Regions from separate parts of the Homo sapiens genome. Here region 2 is linked to region 1. Evidence: fine-mapped expression QTL. A gene starts in region 1. The other region holds a variant in brackets. All regions are shown on one strand. Distances are between the middles of the regions.

Region 1 (9,262 bases):
ATATAAAACTATTGATTCCATTCCCTCCACAAGAAAATATTCACTCTCCCACTAGCCTTCCCCATTTCTACAAATGGTAATACATTCTACCAGTTATTATTATTACTATTATTTTGAGATGAAGTCTCACTCTTGTTGCCCACGCTGGAGTGCAATGGCGCGATCTTGGCTAACTGCAACCTCTGCCTCCCGGATCCAAGCATTTCTCCTGCCTCAGCCTCCCAAGTAGCTGGGATTACAGGCGCCTGCCACCACGCCTGGCTAATTTTTGTATTTTTAGTAGAGACGGGGTTTCACCATGTTGGCCAGGCTGGTCTCGAACTCCTGACCTCAGGCGATCTGCCCGCCTCGGCCTCCCAAAGTGCTGGGATTACAGGCGTGAGCCACCGTGCCCAGCCACAGTCTACAAGTTATTTAAGCTTTTCAAGCAAAAACAACAAACTAGGAGTCATCCTAAATTATTTTTTTTTTCCACAACCTGTACCCAATCAAATCAGTTAAGTCTTGGCAATCCTATTTCCAAAATGCATTCAGAATCTAACCACTTCTCACCGTCTCTACAGCTACCTCCCTAGTCCTAGCCACCATCACCAGTCACAGTGTCTAACTGGTTTACTAGCCACCAGACTTGCTTCCAGAGTGACTCTTCCAAAGTGTACATCAGATCATGTTGCCCCTGCAAGAAGCCCCCCAGCCTGTCTCAGGGCAACAGGAAGCAGCTGTCCAAGGATGAAATAGCAAGCAGATTACGCAGGGGAATGAGGATCAGGTGACAAGGATATACAGGTGGTGTGAAGGCACTCTCAAAGGAAGAGAAAAAAGAGTAAGTTTTACTTTTAGGCTTCCTCTCCCTTTCAAACTCCCCTAGGCCTGAGCAATACTAAAGGGAGATAGATGCATAATGCAGCTGATGCCGCTAGTGACCGACCCACAGCTACTTTGCCCTCCCCAGAGGACCTCTGTCAACATTCCTGTGCACATCATAGGCTTTTTGCATCTCTCTACCTGGCCCTGGGTGCATGCTGGGACTACATGTGGGGCAAGACCCAGAAGCCATGGAGTTCATGCTCCAGGTGCTACCTTCCATCTGTGGGAAGAAGAAGCTGGTGCATAAATACTCCAGCTTCTTTAATCATTAGTGGAACACATTTGAGGTGTGTGCTCAGAGGGTCGCCAGCTGGATTGAACCCCAGTTGCCCACAGGGCTAACCAGCTTACATGGTGTACTGGCTTTCCTCTTTCCTCCCTTTCCTGTCTCACTTCCCTACCCCCTCTCTGTGCTTCCAGGGAACCCTTCCCAAATAAGTTAATTGCATCGAAATCCTTGTCTCAGGCTCTGCATTCTAGGAAACCTAAACCAAGACACATAATAGTGTGTTTTTTCTCCCAAAGGTAATGCCTTTTATGACATCAAACAAAAACAATGCCATCCCAAATTTAAATGAACAAGAGAAGAGAGAGATCTGGACATAAAGTGTGGAGATAGCATTTTAGAAAATAAAATTTAAAATAATATGAGATTTTAAATCTATCCCAGGTAGAAATCAGCCCCATCTTTATTATTCATGTACAAATATGTATAGAGTATATATTCACCAACTATATGCACACACTCAAGATCCTCTCTTATCTCTACTAACTATTAGTTTGTACCCCAAACAGTTAAAAGGACTTGAAAGAACTCTGACACGTTCCAGGTACATAACTGCCCACTGCTGCATCTAAAGAGAGAAAGAAGTGGGCACATTCTGCTCTGGCAGTGAGTTTCATTCGCGTGAAATCTAACTTAAGGAGAGGTGTGTCTCACACACACACACACACACACACACACGGGAAATGTATGCACCACTCAACAGTCTGCAAAACTTCCCTCCAGTTCTTTTGAAGTGAAATCACCACTCCCACAACCGCACTCCCCAGATACCTGCGCTGTTGAAAGTGAAGGGCCTGTCCCTGCTGTGTGGTTTGGGGTAAAAAGGAGGCAGGATTAAAGCGCTCATTTCAAGTCCCAAAAGTAAAATACGACTTGGCCTACGGCAGTCCTAATTCTTTCCAGAACTCATCCCCGGAATTGCCCTTTTAAACAACCAGTCATTAACCCAACTCCGGGTCTTTTATAGCTGCGAAAACCGATCGAGCACATCATTTATTCATTACGCTTATTACTATTGTTATTGCAGAAAAGCAGTGAATTCCCGGGACGGGGTTCAAAGGGTTTTTCGGAGGAGGAGGGGAAGAGGGAGAGAACACGCGGGCGGGCAGGGACCGCTGGGAGGCTGAGCTGGGCTGTGGGGCAGAGGTGCCCGGAAATCCCCAGGGAAGGATGCCTCCAAAGCGCCTCCGCCCCGCGCGCTCCTAGGCCACTGCGCACCGGCGCAGCTGCGGCAGCAACCTAGGAAGCTTCTTACGTAAGTCAGAGCCGCTGACATCACCTTCGCCGCGAGCGTCGCAGCCTGACTAGGCGCCAAAGGACCGTCGCGCCAACCCAGCGCCCCTGTCTACCTCCTGGGTCGTTCCTAAATGATTCTGCCGTCGCCAGATTTGGACGATCCGGAGCCAAGGGGACCGCCCTTGGAAGGGAGATGACATAGAATGACTATTTATTGGGAGCCCTTGGGTGTCGTAAAAGCGAAGTCAACGGACAGCAAAGACGCCCAGGGGTCTCCCAGACTTCCTTCCTCGTCGTTTCCCTGCAGCCCGCCTAGCAGACTAGTTCATACCTAAGTCCACGTGCCAGTAAATTTGGGCGACAGTGCACCGGGGAGGAGGAAGATAGTCTGTGGGATCCTCTGCGGGCAGATGGCACAGAGCCATTTAGTAGGAACCCTGGGCTGTTCAGAGCAGAAAAGATGCCCAGGGGTCTCCTCCATCTCCCCGGGGCCCCTGACACTCCCACCCTCATCTCTCCCTGACCCTCCCCGCGGCCCCTCCGGGCCACAAGGGTTTTCGGCAGAAGCACTACGAAGTTCAGTCTAGGAGGCGAGCAGCGCCACGCTACGTCGCACACGAGGGCAAGGCACAAGTTCGGAGCTCGGGGCAGCACCTGAGGTCACAGCGAGTGACGAAACAGCCGCGGTGCTGCAGCAGTCTCAAAAGAACACTCACTACTCCTGGAACCCCCAACCCTGAACATGCATGGTGTGGGCTACAGGGCTCAGGGCTGGGCTTCTGGAAACCACAGGAGTTGCAACCCTCCTCCCTACGCCCCGTGAAGGACGTGAAAGGCGAGCCCCGGTGGTGAAGGACAGACCCTCTCTGCCTCCTGTGCTCCCCATAAACGCTCCCTTTCTGCTCCTTCTCAGCCCACGCTGCCTGCGACTTCAGAGGTCGCCCTTTTAACTTTCCACCGTCCACGTCTGCATCACTGAATCGGGGTCCAGCCCAGCCACTCAGCCCCAGGAGGATTGGGGTGGGTCCCAGGGGATGGGAAGGGTGGGAAGGCGAGAGTAGTAAGGTGCAAGCTGCAACCGGAGCGGCGCCGCGGGGCTGGGATTGCCGCTGCTGGGGAGGGCGCGAGGGTGCGGCGCAGAAACCCATAGCCTGGCGGGCGGACGGCGCGGGTACTCACGCACTGCCTCCTGCTTAGGGTCAAGCGTGCTGAGGACGCGCTGCACGCCGCCGAGCTTGCCCTGCAGCGCCCAGACGCGGCGGTGGGTGAGCTGGATGTCGCTCTCGAGCTCCTGGAAGAGGCTGCAAGCGTGCCGGGCCACGTCCGAGAGCTGCCGGAGGACACGGGCCAGAGCGGCGTTGCTGACCGCGCATAGGTCCAGCATGAGCAGCACGGCCGCCGCCGCCGCCGCCGAGGACGCCTCGCCGGCTGCGGGCGCCGCCTCCGGGATCCCCGCCGTGCTCTCCTCGCCAGCCACGGACGCCTCTCCGTGCGGCGGCTGAGTCTGGTCGGCCGGCGCGGGCAGTGGCGGCGGCGGCGGTGGCAGCCCTGAAGGTGCAGGGACGGCGCGGGCTGGCTCCTCTGGCCCTGGCGCCTCGACCTCGTCCAGGTCCCTCCGGCCCGGCGGCTGCAAGGGCGGCGGCGGCTCAGCGCTGCCTCCGCTCGCGTCCACTGCTGGGCCGGGCGCAGGGCGCCGCTGCCTGCACAGCCATTGCGGCTCCACGATCCGCTTGGCGAAAGGCATCCCGCGCAGCCAGGCGGCGACTTTCTGGTCTCCTCCAAGCGCCCCTGTGAGCTGGAGACCGGGCGCGCCCACCTGAGCAGGGAGGGGGCAGGAGTCCGGCAAAAGCGCGATCTGGCAGTCCGGATACGCAGGGGGCTTCTCTGCTCACCTTGCCTCCTCTTCCCCGCCCTCTCCCTAGCAAATCAGTCCAGCCAGTCCTCCTTTGGGTGCACCGTTCCCTGGGGAGGATGACAAGCGCTCCGCACAGAAATTTAGGGGTGCGCCTGGTCTCTTCTCACTTGCTTCCAACCAGGGTCGACTGGCTCAACTCCATCGTTTCTGTGCTCGCCGTCGCCACCCCGGCCACTGCCGTCGCCGCCGCCTATATAAATGGGCGTGCGTGTGTCTGTGTGTGTGTGGGTGAGTGGGTGGGTGGGTGTGAGTGTGTGCGCGCGCCTCAGTTTGAAAGTACCCCGGCGCAGGCCTCTCCCCGCGCGCCCCTCGGCCGCTCCGGGGAGCGATTGCGCCCGGGATCTCTCTCCCTGGCTGGGCGGGGAGGAGGTTTCGGAAAGGCGCTCTGAAAACCCGGAGAGAGGAATCTGCCTCCAGCCCGGGCGCAGGAGGCCGCGCGGGGGTGACGGGGCGGACGCAGGGCGGGGGAGGCCGGGGCGAGGGGGGCGCAGCGCCCTGTGCGGCCGCTGGGAGTCACTGGTGGCCTCGCCGTGCTGGGCGCGTTCAGGCGCAAAGACACTTCCTCACATCCAAGGGGTTGGAATTGAGACTGTCAGCGTGGTGGGGGCGGGGAGTCCTCAAGTTGGGAGTAGGGGTGTGGGCAGTAAGCGCAGAGGGAAGAGGGTGGGGTATTGAGGATGCGGCAGATTTGGCGTGTTGGAGCAAGTTTTTCGCCGAATTCCAGCTCTGTACAAGACCTTTGGGTTCTTACAGGGAAAACTGGGCTGCTCCTTGGAGATCCCCGGGCTCTATGAACGCAAGGAGACAACTGGGGAGGGCAAAGGGCGTAGGCGCATCTCCATGTGGCCAGAGCAGCCAGAGTGCTGTTTATACCCCTTCCCAGGCATCACGTGGCCCCCTGTTTTGGGCACGGGCTCTATAGAATATCGTGAATGAGACCCAAACCACCAATGAGCAAAATCCCCAGAAAACTGCTTACGAAACTCATTGCACGTTGGGTGAGATAAACGGCATTACCTCCTCGTCACCCTACTGTGCTGATCATACACAGGATTTTTAAAGTTCTCCATCAGAGAGATGATGATTTACAGAAGAAGGGAAAGTTTTCCCCTTCAGTTAACTGAAAGGTATAATTTCTAAAAAGGCATGCATTTTCGATTGCAGCAGGCTGCAGGCTGTATGCCGTCAGTAAAAAGAGTTTGGGAAATGTTAATAAAACACGTGCTTTCATGCCTCCAAAAAGTATACTGTAAAAATATTTTTTATTTTAAAGCCACAAGCCAGATCTTGGGAATGCAGCCTCTTTTCGTGTTTCTAAAGAGAACATGGAAAAAATATGTTTTATGGCAACAATAAAGTCCTCCAGACCTGCGGTGGTGTCTCCTCTCCTCCCTCTAAAGGCGGGAGAGGGAGGAGGCTCCAACAGTCAGCACTTTGGACTGGCCCACGCTTTGGTTTTAAAGGCTTCAACAGACCCTTGTCTTATTCTACAAAACAAAAAAAAAAAAACAAAAAAAAACCAAAATTTTCGGCAAGGACATATCCTTGTTCATAAAAGATCCAGGCTGAGGCTTTGGGGGTAAAGGGCCATGATGTCTGCAAAGTACACATAAATGTTTCAGTAACAACAAGAAGAAGAATGATGATAATAAAGATGTGTATGTATGAAGGGAGAAAAAAACAAAATATGGCAAAATGTTCAAAATAGTCTAGGTTAAGGGCATATCAGGGTTCATTGTACATTTCTTGCAACTTTAAATTTGGTTTTGTTTCCAAATAAAAAATGAAAGAAAAGAATATTTTGGAACAAGGTCTTTTAAGGTTTGTTTTTTATCTCACAAATCTGAAAAGCGTTGAGCTAGCTGTTTTTAAATTGAGCTTGACTTTTTAATACGTTCAAAATTCTGAACATGAGTTCTGCTGGGTAGGCAAGCCAGACACTTCTCCCTAAACACATGGAAGCATGGAGAACAATGAGGGATATTAAAGGCATCTGGTTAGCAAGCCTTGTGGCAACAGGCTGCCCTGCCTCTCACTCTCCCTTACCTAGCACTGTCCTATTAATAGCAAGGGTGCCAGTGGAGCGGGCCCATCTGAGCATTGACAGGGGCAATGAATAAGTGGTGTGGGACTCTCACTCCTAAAGGGAGTTTCAGATTATTGGCAAGTTCCTTCCAGGGCTCCCAAAATAAGTGATCAGAAAGGAAGGGCAAAGGCCCAGGAGAGAAAGGGTTCAAGGGGGTAATTAAGCTAAAAAACAGGCCAGCTACCTTAGTGTCTGCCCCCAAGTGATCAGCTCAGATTCAAGCCGAGATTTCAAAATGATTCAAAGCACAGTTCAAGGATGCAAAAAGGAGTGCCCTCTTTGTAATCTCCTTGACTCTGACTTGTGTGCTAATAAAGCCCTTTGGTTAAAATTTTAAAAACCTTTAATTTTGGCTTTTGATCTCCTTCATTCTCGCTGTCCCCTCCCCTTCCTTTGGTGGTGGTCCCCAGTGACCTTTCCAAGAGCACATTACGTTTTTGTTTTTGTTTTTGTTTTTGTTTTTGTTTTTGTTTTATTTGGGGAGAAAGACACCCTCCTTCAAAGTCACCAAAACCAAACCTAATACAAATGATCATATTCATTGATATGGTTGGTTGATGTTTTCCCAGTCCTCTGTAAGATATGAATAAAGGTATCTTTAGAAAATGTAACGATTGTTTTACATTAGTGACACCATCTAAATAAAAAACTGCTAGCTTTGGGAAGGCAGCTTCAAGACAGCCTGCTGGCCCCATCCTACCCTTTTCCCAACTCAAGTCCCTCCCATGTGAATTACCCCCACACACACACCCCTACACACATTTTTGGGTTTTATTCCTGCTTTCTAGAACTAAAATACTGAAATTTTAAAAAGGGTAGCAACACATGTAATCCTGACAGGACATGTGAATAGTCTTAAGCTGATGAGTTTTCAGCATACGTGGGAGCTGTGTCTTTCTTGTTTAAATCCTGAATTGTGACATTTTACTCCAAATTTTCCCACAAAAAGTTCTGATGAAGTCAAGGTTGCTTTCTAAAGCCAGGTTGTTACACCTGATTGTTACACCAGATTGTTATGTGTGTGTTGATCTCTCCCAATCACACCGCCTCCCCACTATTCATGTACACATGTTTATTTACCGTGCACTTGTAGCCAAAATAGAAGGGAAAGGAAACATTTTTAAATGGCCCCATCGCCTAATTCCCAGCAGTCATTCATGCAGCTCAAAGGCCAGCACAATTCGCCCATAAATTCAAATGTTTAGTCAGTATAAACTGTATGCCATTGTAAAATGAATGAAAGATCCTGTCTGTGTCACCACGCCCCACAGTTACATTCTTGCCTGCTCCAGCCCAGAAGGAAGAAGGGCTTTGCTGAACTTGAAGATTGGCATTGAGAGCACCGTGAAGCGCCACTGTCCTCAACCTGGCTGTCCTCATGCCTCCACGGAACCCTAGTCAGGCTTCCTATAGAACCTCACAAGCGGCAAAGCAGAGATTCCTAAAACACTCTTCGCTAAAAATGTTCTGATTTGAATATCCTACCATTATTTATACTTGAAAATATTTCTTTTGGCTAAGAAATGCCAGGAGATACACGGGGCACATTAGCATAATCATTGAATTATAGTGACTGAAGTGTCTTTTCCTCCACCTAATTGAACCTATTCCTCATTTAATCAATGTAATCTACTCCTAAAAAGTCCTGCCACTAAGTAAAAACCTGTTAAATAAAAAATATTTGCATTAATTTTATTGGAAAAAATTATGAGCATTCCATCCCAACTTAAGTTACTTAAACCATTTCACAGATAGAAAACTATAGCAAGTTTACATAGGTGAAGGGCTACAATTTGAAAGTAAATAAATATAGTTTGTACATAAAATGCAATGTTATAATATCTCATGAAGGAAGAAGAGCAGATTTGAAATTGGGTGGTGAGGAGTGGAGGAGGGTGAGGTTGTCATTCTTGGGAAATCGTTGGAGAGTCATGTGGTTCACAATGAAGCAGAAAACTTTTTCGAGCTCATGGCTATACTACACTTAAACTGCACTTACAAATAAAGTTACAGTACAGAACAACACCTTAAGGGAAAAATAAAGGATAAACTTCAGAGAGCCTTAAAACATATGGAAAGAGCTCATACACATAGCCGACTGAAGGGTCACAGAAAGATGTTACTCACTCCTCTCTCTCCCACACCAGGAGGCCACCATTGTCAGGCTTTCCAAGAGTTTCTGCAAAGTTTAATGTTAGTTGCTGAGCTCTGAGAGTCCCCAAATCCCTCTTTCCTTTAGTTTTGCTGGCTCATGGGAGGAAGTTCACAGCCCATGGTGGTATGCCATCTTGAATGAGGAAGCATGCATTCTTCCATATGTGTGGTTTATGATGTCCAAAGCCTTCATAGCTTACTTTTTGCAACTCTAAAGTCCAAGTTCTTCCAGTTCAGGAACTTTGAATGTGGCTTTGTGTACAGGTATTCCCATGAAACACTGGGAGAGAAACATATTCATTAATACATCAAAATATTAATCCACCATACACATAAATATATTTACACATATATTGATAACTACCATATGTATAGTTTCGAGGGAGAAAAAAGACTATATACTACCATTGAAGGTTTTCCCTTGTTTCAGCTTGTGCTTTTCTTCCTTAAAAATCTTCATTTAGTCTATCAAGTGTGAAGGACAGGGGTTTCTCTCTGCATTTTATTGATAGGAAAACATGGGCAGAAAAAATAATGCTATTAAAATGGTTTTCCCAAAATGCCAAAGACTGTGAATACAAAGACTATGCCAACCAGCCTTTTTATCTTCCTTTGCAGAGAACTGTTGATTACTCACATTGTTTCCTGTGGGAGAAATTCTTACTTCTTTCTAATCTTCAAAAATCCTAGCCTCACATTTTACAACTGAATATAATTT
Region 2 (9,262 bases), 150 kb before region 1:
GCCATCGTCCATACTGTTACTGAATTCTTTACTGCTAGGAAGGTCTCCAGGGACCAGCCATCTGCTTTTCCTCCCTTCAAGGGCAGGGACTATATCATTCATCTTTGTTTCCTGGGGCTCCGGTCCAGTGCCTGGCATATAATCAGGGCTAAAGAAGTGTGCCTCGATGGATTGATTCATTTACATAGAAATGGCTTCCGCTTTGCACTAATTAAAACCAGAGCAAAGAAGTCTTCCTGACCTCGAGGGCCAATTCATGCTACCAATTATCTAGACATTCAGAGCTGAATTCTTATATATTTAAAACAATTTTAAAAAGTTTTCATTTTCCAGTGTCATATTTTAGGAGTCTATGTGGGGTGTGAACCACTGCATGGAGCTGCAAAGGATCCCACTGGCTTCACCAACAAATATTTGTTGGGTGCATTCTAGATACCAGCTCCTGGGGAGACAAGAATCAACACAAATGAATGGGTCCTCACTCCATGAAACTTACAGTCTAGCAGGAGAGACACGCATTAATCCAATTGTCACACTTTGGATATATAACTGCATAGGGCAAAAAGCACTATGAGGATAAGAAGGAGGGTCAACAACAAAGGAATCTCACTGGCTGGAGAAGGTCAGAGAAAGCCTCCCTGGGGAAGCTTGAGGGGCCATTGGCAGGATGCTGAGGCACTAAGCAGGTGAGGTGGGGCTGGAGAAAGCACCTCAGCTTGTGCAAAGGCCCTGTGGGGGCCTGAAAATAGGCCAGCGTGGCTGCAGCACAAAGCCAAGGGAGGGCAGCAGAGAGAAAGACAGAAGCATAGCCAGGGCCCACCCTAGAGGCCTTCAGGGCCATGCTCAGGATTGTAGGCTACGACCAATGGTGTCACAGAAAGAGCTGAAGCAGTGGCAGAGGAGGAGGGGGGAATAATGGTGCGGGAAACTTTGAATAGGTCACTTGGACTTGATAGTAGAAAAGAGACTGGACAAATGCAAGAGAGGCTACAAGGAGACCTCCAAAGACAGCTGCAGGAGAAGATGGGGCTTAGACCACAGGGGTGGTAGTTAGGGTAGAGGGCAGAAGAGGGATCTGAGAGACACTGGGCAGTGAAATGAATGATCCTGGTGATGGATTAGGGGGACAGTGAGGGAGGGGGAGGCCCACTTCCAGCTTGCAATCTAACTGGGAAGGCTGGGGCACCAGGGGAAGAACTGGGGGGCCACTGAAGGGGGATGAGAAAGCTCAGAGTGGCCAGGAAAGGAAAGTGTGGGTTTGGATTCACAGCTAGGAAATGGGGGAGGTTTATAAGGGGGAGGTACTGGCCTCTCCAAAAGGAGGAAGGGGAAGGGAATTAAAAGCATGAGGCAGGGGGCAAGGGTAGCCTGGCTGGTGCGAGGGTTTCCATGGAGAGAGAAATAAAGGCTGCCAGAAGGGCCAGGGTTCCTCGAGAGCAGCTATTCCCAATGTGTGCTCCTCCACCTCACCAGAAGCATGGGCATCACCAGGGAACCTGTTTGAAATGCAGATTTGGCTGGCAGGGTGGCTCCCGCCTGAAATTCCAGCACTTTGGGAGGTTGAGGCAGGGGAATCACTTGAGGCCAGCAGTTCAAGACCAGCCTAGGAATTTGAGGCTGCAGTGAGCTATGATTGTGCCACGGTACCCAAACCTGGGCGGCAGAGTGAGACCTTGTCTGAAAAAAAAAGAAAAAAGGATGAAATGCAGATTCTCTGGCCCTGACCCAAACCTGATAGATTCAAAACTCTGAGAGTAAGGCTGAGCAATCTGTGTTTTAATAGGATTGTTGAAACAAATTCCAATATATGCTCAAATTTGATAACCACTGCCCTGGACCAGCGCTTCTGAAACATTAATGTGCGTCTGAATCACCTGGGGATCATGTTAAACAGCAAATTCAGATTCAGTCGGTCAGCAGTGGAGCCCTGATTCTGCATCTCTAACCAGCTCCCAGGGGAGACGATACTGCTAGTCCAAGGACCACACTTTGAGTAGCAAGGGTCCAAATCATCCCTTCACCCCATTCTGAGAGGTTAAGGGACTATCCACCTGCTTGCTGGTGACAAATGGGGTCGGTAGCACTCAACATAAGCCAAAACATCCATCTCTCCAGAAACCTGAGAAATGTCATGCTCCTTAACTGAATTTCCTCCACATTAAAGTCCAGCACTGGCGTCTCTCTCGGCAGGGCTGAAAAACCTAATGGCAGATAGAAATAAGCCATTCCCATCCGGTGACCTGGCTGGAGAGGGAGAGGAGGGGAGGGGATTTAAATCCAGAGATCTCTGGACACGTTCACTGAAAGTCACTTTCAAGTTATTCTCGAGCTATTTTAAAATGATTAACCCCTTTCAGAGGGGAGTTTGACTAGCTTCAACTTGGAGTCAGTGCAGGGAAAGCATCTTTGTTCTTTCCTCTCTGTGGCCCAGAAATAGAGGGAAGAAAAAAGGAAACCCCCTTGGCTGCCACAGAAGAGCCTAAAGGACATGAAGCAGCCTGCACATCCAGAGAGTCTCCAAGCGAAGTGAAAGGCACATGTCAACAGGGGACACCAAAGGTAAAACAAACTCAAAAGACAGGATGCAGTTGGTTTTAGCTGACATCCCTTCCTATGAACTCCACACTGTCATACCCTAAACACGAAATCTCCTTCTAAGAATGAAACTTAAAATCTGCCTCTCAGGATGAATTGAATCCTGAATGCCCCTCCATGCTTTTTAAGAGCTACTATGAACTGATTTTTTTCTCTTTTCTTTAAGGGAAAATGTGCAAAGTGGCAAGAATTGAATACATAATTCAAAGACTTTGAGTTGGAGTCTGTGTGGACTCTGGGCAGTACGGTCTCATTTCTGTTTTCTGCTGTTGTCTGCACTGGGAATGTGGAAGGAGAGCATTTTTTTTCCCCCTAGAAAAACAACGCGTCAGCTTTCTTTGTCGGCTTCAGTGACACTAAAGGCATTGCAGTGTTAGCCAAACTGGAGCCAACTGAAGCTTACACACTCCTGAGCAGGAACCAAATCATCGACTGGATCTGACACCTCTTCATTTTCCAACCCCTTCGCATTTCTCTTTTGATTGCTCTTCATATATGTACATGCACTTTTCTGTATTTCATATACATATACACACTGACATCTTACTAGCAATTTTTAGCTCCTTGACACATAATAAAGGCATCCATTCTCAGTGAAATCAGGCCTTCTGTTCAAAGTGTTTTCCCTAGAAAATATGGCAGCTTCTAATTAAATAACTCAATGAGCAGCAGGAAGGGATAATGTGAAATTTAGAGCAGCATTTCAGCTTATATAGCACCCTTCTTGACAAGCAGTACACAGTAGTTGACGGACTTCAGAAAACCAAGCTGTGCTACATTCTCACTGATGTGCTTGGAAAGAAAGGAGGGGAAGAAGGGAAGGAGGGAGGAAGAAAAAAGAAAGAAGGAAGGGAAGAAGGGAAGGAGGGAGGGAAAACAAAGAAAAAGAAGGAAGGGAGGGATGTCTAACACATCCCAGATATACACAGGGCAACACATCACCATTCCCTTGGCATCACCCAGCTGTCAATCTGGTATTTGTGAAAGTGCCCTGTGCTTACGAAAAAGGATAGTGGCCCAGGGCTGTCTAACCTTCCCAAATGACAGACCTAGAACACTCCAAGAGACCATATATTTATAAATATTTGAGAAATGGGGCATTCCCAGTATAACATATACTCACAGGGGTTGTCTTGCAGTGTGGGTGTCTTAATTTATTTTTCCTTCTTTTTTAAAGCCAGCAGCCATAT[CCTGAAGCCACACAGCG/G]TGTTTGAAGAAGGGGTGAGTTAGCCAGCACTCCCAGAGAGATTTGGTTCCTCAGAAAAAGAGTCAAAGATGAGCAGCCATGAAGTTCCTCCATTGGTAAACCCAGCACAGCTGCCACCCAGAGCAAACCAGAATCAGGAGTTCTGTGATTATTTCTTAATGCTGACATGCACGACCCAGTTATTCACATGTAACTCAAGGATTCCAGAGTCAGTAGCATCCTTAAGGAAAAATTTTCTCCTTCTGTGAGTTTAGTTATTTAAGGGCAGGGGTGATGTAACCAATACTAGACACAAGAACAGTCCTCTTGAGGAAGAAGAGAGAGAGGGAGGAGCCATATCAGAAGCAGGAGCACCCTACCAGAAAGCAACCTGCTAGATCAGGGGCTCCTTGTGGTGGCACTGGTGACATTTGAGGCTGGATCATTCTCTGCTGTGGGGGCTGCACTGTGCATTGTAGGAGGTTTAGCAGCATCCTTCACTTCTCCTCACCAGATGCCCCTTTTCTCCAGTTGTGGCAACCAAAAATGTCTCCAGACATTGCCACATGTCCCCTGGGGGTGAGGGAAGAATCACCCTCCCCCACTGCCCTAGACAAAAGCCACAGAAAACAAGAGGAAGCGGTAGAAAAAGTCACCAGACACCAATTAATTTGGGGGTGGGGTTGGGAGCAGAAAGGGAAGAAAAGAATGTGGAGACATAAAGGAACATCTCACAGGTTTCAGCCAGGAAGATCAAACTCAACTTGCAGATAAGACAGTGGGTATAGTCGTGCAACCCACAGACTCGGCGTGATTATGGGTCCCTTTGAAGGGAGCAGCGCTTTTACAGGCAGGCCAAGGGGGCAGTGAAGCCTATTTAAAAAGGGAGCGGCTTGTAGTTTACCAGATATCTTATCAAACTTACTTTAAGAATTCAACGCAGGAAAAAAAATGCCACCCCTGAATGCTCCTTTCCTTAAACTTGGATACTAACAAAACTTCCTGTCAACACGTAGGAGCCTGAAGTGATTAAAGCAAAAGGGAGCACTCCCTCTATTGTGTCTGCTTCTAATCCTCAGAGAATTTTTCTTTTAGACACACATACAAACAACTTGGGATTTGTTGATGCTAACTGCAGAGGGGTTTACGCAAGGAGGGGCGGGGGCTGCTCAGACCACAAAATGAAAGGGGAAATAGAAGCAAAGAGAGAGAGGGCCTGAGAAAGTTTCCTTCCCCAGCTTCCAGTCAAGAGGGCTGGCACAGTGCTCAAGGGCATTTGGCGTCAGTCACTGGACTGCTCCCTGAAATGCCCTGAAGGGGCAGAGCCAGGGAAGCTGGCAGGGCCCTCTCTGCCTTTTTCACTTGGGAGCCCAAGTCAGCCAAAGAAAAGCTATGTGCCACCTTTATCATGCAACAAAAGCCACTGCAGAGCCCTCCAAGGCTCCAATGCACTTAATAAAGGCTAACTAAATAAACAAAGAACAAGTCCTGAGAACATAAAACTCTTCACACCTGGGTACCCTCTTTATTACAGACTCCAGTTTAGCAAGAACCCGGCAAGCTCTGACCTTACCTTGGAAACAAGCCCAACAGGGTGAACTGGTCACAGAAGGCAAAACTGGACACATCTTCCCACCTTCAACCCCCAGAGGAAAATGTCTGTTCTGTGCTCCAGACTATTTTTGCTGGGGGTATTTTATTTAAATTCCTTCACTTGATTATATGTTTTGCACAAGTATCTGAAGTTTTGTTCATTTTGTTGTCAAATGAATCTTCCTGCTTCACTTCTAAGTGAGGTTGAGGACCTCAAGTGACATATGCATTCATGATAATAATAACAGCAACATTTATAGAGCTCTTACTACATGCGAGTTCAAAGCACTTGAAATAGATTAGCTCATTAAATCTCAACTGAAGTCTTATTTTTACTTTCTGCAATTATAAATGATCTGTATCTCTTTTCCTCCTCCCCTACAAATTCTCCCAAACCCAGAAATGCGCATAGAAATAATAGCCAGTCACGTATTAGTTGATCTCTCTGCTAGATTGTCAAAATGGCTGCAATCATTCCCCTTTCGGTATCTCCCCATCCATTTGCAATGAGACCTTGTAAGCCCTCCCATCGAGAGGTGGAGTCTATTTCTCAAACCCTTGAATCTGGGTTTGGTTCTGTGACTTGCTTTGGCCAATGCAATTCAGAAGTGGCACTGTCTGAGTTCCAAGCCTGGATCTCGAAAGGCCTTGCGCACTTCTGCTCGCATGCTCAGAATTCCGTGATCACCATATGAACAAGCCCAGGCTGGCCTGCTAGACGATAAGAGGACACTGCCAGGGGGAACATCCCAGATGAGGCCAATCTAGATCAGCTAGGCCTCAGCTGACCTATCACTGATTGTGGACACATGCGCTAGCCCAGCTACAACCACCTGGCCTGGCCTAGCCCAGACTGGAACAACCACTGAGCTCAACCACAGACTAAGATATATGTTTGTTGTTCAGCGCCACTAAATTTTGGGGTAGTTTGTTTTCTAGCAAAGGTGTAACATTCAAAGCATTAACTATACTCTTTTAACCTTGTGATTCTCCAATATGGAGTTACAATATGCAATGTTTTTGAAACTTCTTTGACCATGAACTTAACTCTCCCTTTTCTCTCTTCTGTGTGTATACACACATGCACATTCCAAGGAACACACACACTAGGGAAAGGCTGCTCTAGATCACTCATCACAGGAGTAACTAGCATTGGTTCATCTGTAAGTTTTATGAAAAACAGCTGCTTTTCCTTCATGTCCGCTTATAGCTTTTGGTGCTGTTCTGAAAACATTAACCTTAATGGCAACTGTAACAACCAGTGTTATAACAACATATAAGAGCTGAGAAACCTCCCAAACATCCCCCATTAGTCCTTTGTTCTTACTATGGGCTATAAAGAGCTATTTAAAAAGACAAAAATCAAAACCAAGAACTTAATATTCTAGGCCCACTAAAACAATAATCAGAGGTTTCTCCCATAAAAACCCCTTCCACTGTAGTAAAAAAAAAAAAAAAAAAAAAGAAAAGAAAGAAAAAAGAAAACAAAAACAAAACAGTAAATTGCTGCAAAAAATAGACAAAAATGAACTGGCTAGAAACTGATTAAGGATTCGTTTTGAACCAAAATCAATAAAGAAAAAAACAAAATTCCAAGCAATGCCATTCACTGCTTTAACATTCCAAAAAGAACTCCCACACAAGTATTTTGAAACATTCCTGGAAATTCATGTTTTACTTAATTCATCTGCTTCCAATAGCTGGTTTTCCTTTTTAGTCCAACCATCCTTCTCAGAATTCAAACAATCTCTCTAATTTCATCCCTTTCTCTGGAGCAGGGTTCAGATGGTGAGAAGATATTATTATTGCTATCATCATGATCAGGTTTCTGTTGATCAACACTGTGTAAAAGAACCAGGTGCAATTTTCCAGCAGATGCCACAAAAATAAATGATAACATATGCAACCAACATCCTACCATTTTTTTGTAAAGTATTTAAAAACTTATTTGAAAGTTATCTAGTAAAAAATAAGTATTTCCAAAATGAGTTACTACATGTGTCAAAACATACACCCAACAGAACAGGACTGCTTCAAAAGAGCTGTCAGTCAGAGTCCAAGGAGGAAATCAAGGCCCTTCCTCCCTGTGAGCTCAGCTACTAAGATCGGCAGGCTTAGTATGCCTTCCCACCCAATCAAAGACTATTTTGGACTAACAAATATAGAAGGGATGATGGATGAAACCATTAGAGTAAATCATTATCCAGGCAAGAATCCTCAATGAATGCTAAAGCTAGGTGGAGAGAGTTTGATGAGGAATGGGATATTTACATAATGTCAAAATATCTTCCAACAAATTATATTTGTTCATTACAAAAGGAAAAAGAACAGCTACACAGACACCAGCTTAACTAATCAAATGTGACCTCACCAACAAGGGCCAAATGGACATCTGTGCCTCCTGATATGGTCCCCAGAGAACAAATCACTTACATGCCTATATAGCATTCCAACTGAAAAATGCCTAAATCCAAATGTAAATGTGAAGAAACATCAGAGAAACCAAAATTAAGGAACATTCTATAAAACAACTGGCTGGTATTCTTCAAAAATGTCAAGGCCACTGAAGACAAAGGAAGAGTTATGAACTGTTCTTGATTAACGGGGACAAAAGAGACAGGACAACTAAATGCAATGTGGGATCCAGGACTAGATTGTGAACCTTAAGAAAATTGTGATAAAGGGCATTATTGGGACACAGGTTACATAAAAGTATGAAATAAATATTATATTTTCTAAATTTGATAGCTGTACATATACAAGAGAATATTCTCATTCTTGGGAAATGCAAGGGGTAAAGGGAGTTTGATGACAGCTGCCTACTCCTAAATGGTTCAGCAAAAAAATTCACATATATATGAACATGAATTAGTGTGGGGGAGAGAAGGGATAAATGCAACAAAATATGAACAATTAGTGAATCTAGATAAAGGTATACAAGAGTTATTTACACTATTCTTGCACCTGTCCTGTAAGTTTTAATTATTTCAAAATAAAAAGTGAAACAAGCAAACATCACCAAATGCGGAGCTTGCTATGGGTGGATAAGGGTAAGGGCAAGACAAAATTGTACCCCCGAGTAGTCAATATGCAGCAGAGAGCCAGCTCTCTTCCCAGCTGCCCTTCATAGCACTGTCCAGAGTATTCCCCAGAATGGACCCCCTCTTAGCTTCTTTTGAGATGAAGCTTTTGTGACCACAGGCCCCTGGCACTCCAGGATGCTGCAGGCCTTGAAAGAAAACCAAAACCACTTCGGGCCATGGTTCAACTCTTTATGAACATTTTCTTCCTGCAGGTTTTCCACTGTGGTGGTTGGAGGTCTTATTTCTTTTGCCGGCACTGTTGGGAGAGAAAGACAAGACTGGGCTTTTATTGAGGTGTGAGGGACCTGGGAAGCCAAGAAACACAAGCAGGGACTCACAGGTTCCAAGATGAGCTTTTGGGGTATTTACTGGATGCCGCCCTATCTGTTTTCCCTCTTCTGTGTAGAGATCCATTGAGGTCAGCTCATCTGGGGAGACTGCCCCCACTACTGGCTCTGCCTCTGGACTGTCAGGAGCCTTGGGATGAGTCTCATGGCGGCTCTATGCCTCGGTTTCCTCATCTGCTCTGCTCAGTAGAGATAAGCAATCCTGCTGTGTCAGCCCTGCCATTTTTGGCAGCAGCAGAGATCAAGGCCTGGGGGGTGGGCCCTGGAAAGACATCCCTGGCAGGAAGACTGGGTCTCTGCCTCTCAAGTGGCACCTGCTGCTGAGTTTCCTAATTGCTGCTGTGTCCACCCAATCATGTGACTGTGTTGCTACCTCAGTTTCCATTCCAGCATTCCTGCATTCTGTCAGGCCTGAGTCCTGCCAGGCTCTAAGACTCAGCCTGATGGTGCCCTAGTTC

What was found. PIP is the estimated chance that this variant, and not a neighbour inherited with it, causes the effect.
Region 2: its variant is fine-mapped to the expression of NHS in whole blood (TOPMed, PIP 0.91).

Annotation. Positions count from the first base shown.
Region 1 is chrX:17,370,629-17,379,890 of GRCh38, reverse strand. NHS (NHS actin remodeling regulator) reads right to left here and starts at 4,691. Exons shown (of 9, transcript NM_001291867.2): 1 at 3,569-4,691. The coding sequence starts at 4,133.
Region 2 is chrX:17,523,215-17,532,476 of GRCh38, reverse strand. The region is part of intron 1 of NHS (NHS actin remodeling regulator); the gene reads right to left. It overlaps LOC101928389 (a long non-coding RNA gene), which reads right to left and starts at 4,042. Exons shown (of 2, transcript NR_135631.1): 1 at 3,719-4,042. The variant CCTGAAGCCACACAGCG/G (reference allele first, on the strand shown) is at 3,786.